Linked DNA regions of Homo sapiens: region 1 is linked to region 2. The links come from fine-mapping of genetic effects on gene expression. A gene starts in region 2. The other region holds a variant in brackets. All regions are shown on one strand. Distances are from middle to middle.

Evidence for each region.
Region 1: its variant is fine-mapped to the expression of LSM7 in substantia nigra (GTEx, PIP 0.98).

The regions. Positions count from the first base shown.
Region 1 is chr19:1,700,445-1,703,345 of GRCh38, reverse strand. No RefSeq gene overlaps it. Among named protein-coding and RNA genes, the nearest start is that of TCF3, 49 kb to the right of the region's middle. The variant G/A (reference allele first, on the strand shown) is at 1,814.
Region 2 is chr19:2,327,050-2,329,950 of GRCh38, reverse strand. LSM7 (LSM7 homolog, U6 small nuclear RNA and mRNA degradation associated) reads left to right here and starts at 1,365. Exons shown (of 4, transcript NM_016199.3): 1 at 1,365-1,390; 2 at 1,474-1,564. The coding sequence starts at 1,385. SPPL2B (signal peptide peptidase like 2B) reads right to left here and starts at 1,267. Exons shown (of 15, transcript NM_152988.3): 1 at 1,176-1,267. The coding sequence starts at 1,241. RefSeq lists silencers at 981-1,240, 2,261-2,360 and enhancers at 1,451-1,500, 1,511-1,560, 996-1,650, 1,931-1,990.

The DNA.
Region 1 (2,901 bases), 630 kb after region 2:
TATATACTATATATAATATGTGATATACATAATATTATATATTATATATATATAACAACTCCCATTATTGGCATGGATGAGAGTAAATGAACAGGCTGATGTACAATGGAAGGATATGTATTTTATGAAGTTTCAGAGATAATTTGATAAAATGTATCAAAAGCCTTACTATTTGTTTTATGGTCTCTTGACAAGCAACTCCAGGATGAATTTGTCCTGAAGAAAAACTTCAGAGAGTGTAAGAGATTCATGTCCAAGGATGCTCATTGTTGCGCCTTTTCTTTTCTAAAAAAAATTTTCGGCCAGGTGCAGTGGCTCATGCCTGTAATCCCAGCACTTTGGGAGGCCGAGGTCAGGAGTTCGAGACCAGCCTGGCCAATATGGTGAAACCCCGTCTCTACAAAAATACAAAAATTAGCTGGGCATGGTGGCGAGCGCCTTTAATCCCATCTACTCGGGAGGCTGAGGCAGGAGAATCGCTTGAACCCGGGAGGCAGAGGTTGCAATGAGCCGAGATCATGCCACTGCACTCCAGCCTGGGCGAACAGAATGAGACTCCGTCTCAAAAAAAAAAAAAAAAACAAAACAAAACTTCTGGAGATGGGGCCTTGCTACGTTGGCCAGGGTGGTCTCGAACTCCTGAGCTCAAGCAATTCTCCCACCTTGGCCTCCCAAAGCGCTGTGATTATACGCATGAGCCACTGCGCCTGGCCTGTGGTGTCTTCTTCTCTTCTCTTCTCTTTTCTCTTCTCTTCTCTTCTCTTCTCTTCTCTTCTCTTCTCTTCTCTTCTCTTCTCTTCTCTTCTCTTCCTCTTCTTCTCTTCTCTTCTCTTCTCTTCTCTTCTCTTCTCTTCTCTTCTCTTCTCTTCTCTTCTCTTTAGATACAGGGTTTCCGTCTGTCGCCCAGACTGGAATGCGGTGGTGTGATCTCAGCTCACTGCAGCCTCAACCTCCAGGCTCAAGCGATCCTCCCGCTTCAACCTCCTGAGTAGCTGGGTTTATAGACAAGAGCCACTGTGCCTCGCCCAAGGTAACAAGTGAAAATTGTAGACATTTTGGAAAATACTGATACTGCAGCTGGATTTGAATTTCCACCCCACCTTCACTCAATTGTTCTTGCCATTTAAGTACAGTTTCCTAGTTATTTTGTTTGTTTTCTGTTTTTTTTTTTTTTTTGAGATGGAGTCTCGCTGTGTTGCCCAGGCTGGGGTGCAGTGGTGTGGTCTCGGCTCACTGCAACCTCCATCTCCCGGGTTCAAGCGATTCTCCTGCCTCAGCCTTCTGAGTAGCTGGAATTACAGGTGCACACCACCACGCCCAGCTAATTTTTGTATTTTTAGTAGAGACGGGGTTTCACCGTGTTGGCCAGGTTGGTCTTGAACAGACTGGTCTCGAACTCCTGACCTCAGGTGATCCACCCACCTAGGCCTCCCAAAGCGCCGGGATGACAGGTGTGAGCGACCGTGCCCAGCCCAGTTTCCTAGTTCTTGTACTGCAAGTGTCTTGGCCGTTAAGGGGCCCTTGCCTGTCTCCAGGAAATGGTGTTGTTTCCTCAAACTCACCCCCACTTTGCAGACGAGAGCCCTGAGGCTCCAGGGTCCCACTGTGAGGGACACTCCAACCTGGGAGGGTGTGACTCCCCCCGCACAGTGCTCTTTCCACCACCTGAGGCTGTGGATTCCGGCCGGGGGGCTGGGGAAAGGAGGGGAGACTGCTTTCATCTGCCCACTGGCGAGGGACCCCACCTCACAGCCGGTGAGGGGCCAACCAACCCGTGCCAGGAAGTGGGCCATGGCGGGAAGTCTGTGGGGCC[G/A]GGACCCGCCCGGAATACAGACGCAGCTGCAGCGTCGGAGTGGCCCAAATCGGATTCTCCGGGGAAATCTGAAGCCTCTGATGTGTGGGGAAGGTTCAAACTTGAACAAAGGCTGGGTGGACAGGAGACTCGGCCAGGGCCGGGCGGGGGCCAGGAGCCACGGGGGTGATCCTGAGTCTGCCCGTCCTCAGCTGTGATGGGGGCTCCCCAGGGCACCTTCTGGGGGAGATCTCAGGTCCTGCTTTGGGTTCTGTGATGGAGAGGGGGGAGCAAAGAGAGAGAGGGAGGAGGAGAGAGGGAGACAGAGAGACAGAGAATGAGATAGAGACAGAGAGAGAGAGAGGCAGAGACAGAGAGACAGAGACAGACACAGAGACAGAGAGAAAGATAGAGGCAGAGAGAGACACAGAGAGACAGAGAAAGAGACAGAAAAAGACAGAGACACAGACAGAGAGAGGCAGAGAGTGAAATAGAGAAGAGATAGAGACAGAGAGAGACACAGAGAGACAGAAACAGAGATAGAGGCAGAGAGAGACAGAGAGTCAAAGACAGAGATAGAGAGATAGGAAGAGACACAATCAGAGAGAGGCAGAAACAGAGAGACAGAGAGACAAAAAGACACAGAGACAGAGGCAGAAGAAATGGAAACTAAGAGGGAGAGACAGAGACCCACAGAGACATAGAGAGACACGGAGAGATAGAGAGAGACGGAGAGCGCGCAGGAGCCAGGGACACCGGTGGGCTGCAGATGCTCCCGCCCGTCTGCACCTCTGGCCCCAGTTCTGGCTGCCCCGCACCCAGCCCCCACCCCACAGCAAGAGGAGAGAAGCCCCAGCGGCCGCCTCGGCTATCGATCGTCCTTGGTTGCTGCGGCTGGAGCAGGCGGGGATCAGGGTGGCCTCATCTCCCTCGGCAGCAGCCACAACGCCGGGAGACCCAGCCCAGAGACCCCAACACCTGCGGGCCGGCGGCGGGGGCCAGGAGGAGTCACGTCCCATCTCTGCCCCTTGGGAATACGGATGGGGGTCAAGATCTGGGCACCCCCACCCCAACCCACGGGTCTGCCCCAGGCACCGTCTCAGCCTCTG
Region 2 (2,901 bases):
GCTGGGGGTAGGACTGGGGTTCTCAGAAAGCTTCCGAGGGGGCCCGACAGCCTTGCAGAGACCAGGGGCATCTCAGGGTAAGAGAAAAGACTAGAGAGTGAAGCGACTGCAATGAGCTGCAGGCTTCCCCAGCAGCCAGGTCACAACTGGACGGCGCACTCATCTGGATGCGACACGGTCTGACATACTTTGAAAGGGTCACCCCTGCTGTGTCGAGGATGGACTGGGGATGTGGTGGACAAAGGCAGCCACAGCAGAGGGATAGCGGTGGGGCTGGAGGAGTGGAGACTGAGGAGCCAGGTGGCGGCGACGCCTTAAGAGTGAGAACTCTGAGGGGGTAGTGAAGGTTAAGGGCTGCATTTGTGGGGCTGCTCCAGGTTCCATTGCCTGAGCCACCGAACTCAGGAGAGAGGGAAGATTTGGAATTAAGAAAATAAAAGATGCAGTTATGACAGTGCGATCTCGTAGACTGTCCCCACTAGAACCTGACACTCTTTACATCAAATGACACACAATGAACATAATGAAGGCCTGTTGGCCCTGGGCGCTGGTCACCCTGGACAGAACCTCCAGAATCCACACCATAGTCGGTCCTCCTTCTGCACACGAATTCCATCGTCCAAGGTCACGGAGTAAAAGATGGAGCGGGGATCCGACCCCAGTGCAGGGCTGGACTCCTGGCCGCTCCAGGATGCTGCCAGTTACTGGGGGACGCGCGGGACGCCTCTGGGTTCCCCCACCGCACCCCCTAGGGTGAGGTTAGCTTAGCACCGTGCCCGTTCCGCCTAAGGGGAAACTGAGGCTCGGAGAGGGGTGGGCAGCCGCCTGCTCAAGGCCACAGAGCCGGAGAGAGGCGTCCCCGGCGGCAACTGGAGACCCCGAAACGGAGAAGCAGAACCGGAGGATGGAGGGGGCACAAATTTCAGACCCGGTGGGAAGTGAGTGGCGCTGCAGCGGCGGAGGGCCTCCGAGGCGGGGAAAGGAGAGGAGCCGGGGACAGACCCGCAAGGTCACGGCCGAGCCCCGGCACCGCCGGCCGACAACGCGGGGACGGCGGATCCCCGAGGCTGGACCCCCAAGACGGGCCGAGCGGGGTCGTTCCTGCGCGTAGCCCGGGGACAGAGAGGCCGAAGGGCCGCAGCCCGCGGTGCCGTCGGGACCGGTGCCGCGCTCACCTGGGCCGCGAGGAGCAGAAAGGCCGCCAAAAGCCGCGCCAGCGCAGCCGCCACCGCTGCCGCCATGTCGGCCGGTGCCCGCCGCAACCAACGGCAGATGTTTCCCAGCAACGCCCCGAGACCCCGGGCCACGCATGCGCCGCGCATGCGCGTGGGGGAGGTCAAAGGGCGCGGGGCGGTGCCTGCGAAGAGCCACACGGCGCGACAAGATGGCGGTGAGCGCGCGGCGGAATCTGGAGCCGGGGGGCGTGGAGCTCGGGCCGCGCTCCAGGTCTCATGCGCTCTGCTTTCCCCGCAGGATAAGGAGAAGAAGAAAAAGGAGAGCATCTTGGACTTGTCCAAGTACATCGACAAGACGATCCGGGTAAAGTTCCAGGGAGGCCGCGAAGGTGAGGAGGCTCCCGCTGTCGGTACCCCCTCTTTAAAAATTTCAAATAAACCCAGCAACAGAGATGATGAGGACGCATGCGGAAGCACCTCTTTTATTTATTTTCATTATTTTTTTTGAGACGCAGTCTCGCTCTGTCACCCGGGCTGGAGTGCAGTGGTGCGATCTCAGCTCACTGCAACCTCCGCCTCCCAGGTTCAAGTGATTCTTGTGCCTCAGCCTCCCGAGTAGCTGGAATTAATGTGTACCACCACGCCCGGCTAATATTTGTATTTTTAGTAGAGAGGCCATGTTGGCCAGGATGGTCTCAAACTCCTGGCCTCAAGCGATCTGCCTGCCTCAGCCCCCTAAATTGCTGGGATTTCAGGCATGAGCCACCATGCCCAGCCTAGCATTTTTGACTGGGCAAGTGAGCTGCCTTCTCCTAGCCTCCGTTTCCTCATTTGTCAAATGGGGCTGGTAACTCCACCCACTTCACAGGGGGTGGTGAGAATGAATGGTTACAGGCATGTAATGTAATTGAGGCAGCTCTCAGCAGGAAGTAAGCAGTCAGACAACACGTCACTTATTCAATAGCCTCTTGGATCTTTGGTTTCTTTTTTTTGTAAGACGGGGACCCAAACCTCTTTGTCCCTGGATTGTAGACAACTGGGTGGCATGAGAGTTATTAAAAATCACAGTGCCCCAGCCGGACGGGGCGGCTCACGTGTGTAATCCCAGCAATTTGGGAGTCTGAAGCAGGAGGGTGGCTTCACCCTAGGGTTTGAGGCTGCAGTGAGCTATGACCGCACCACTGCACTCCAGCCTGGGCCACAGAGCAAGGCCCAGTCTCAAAAGAGAAAAAGGAGGCCAGGCACAGTGGCTCATGCCTTTAATCTTGACACTTTGGGAGGCCGAGGCAGGCAGATCAGGAGGTCAGGAGATCAAGACCATCCTGGCCTACGTGGTGAAACCCTGTCTCTACTAAAATACAAAAAGTTAGCTGGGCATGGTGGCGCACGCTTGTAGTCCCAGCTACTCGGGGGGCTGAGGCAGGAGAATTGCTTGAACCCCAGAGGCGAGATTGTGCCACCGCACTCCAGCCTGGCGATAGGGCAAGACTCCGTCTCAAAACAAAAAGAAAAAGGAATATGAATAAAATGTTTTCTCAGTCTACACCATGCTGACTCCGGACATGGAAGGACATGAGTGAGCGGCCGCTCTTGCTGGTCACACTGCTTCCCTTTGTTTTCTGCCCTTCATAGCAAATCACCCATTTAGCAGCTGAAACAGCACCATTTTATTATCTCACAGGATCTGTGAGTCAGGAGCCAGGGTACCACAGCCTCAAGGGCTCTC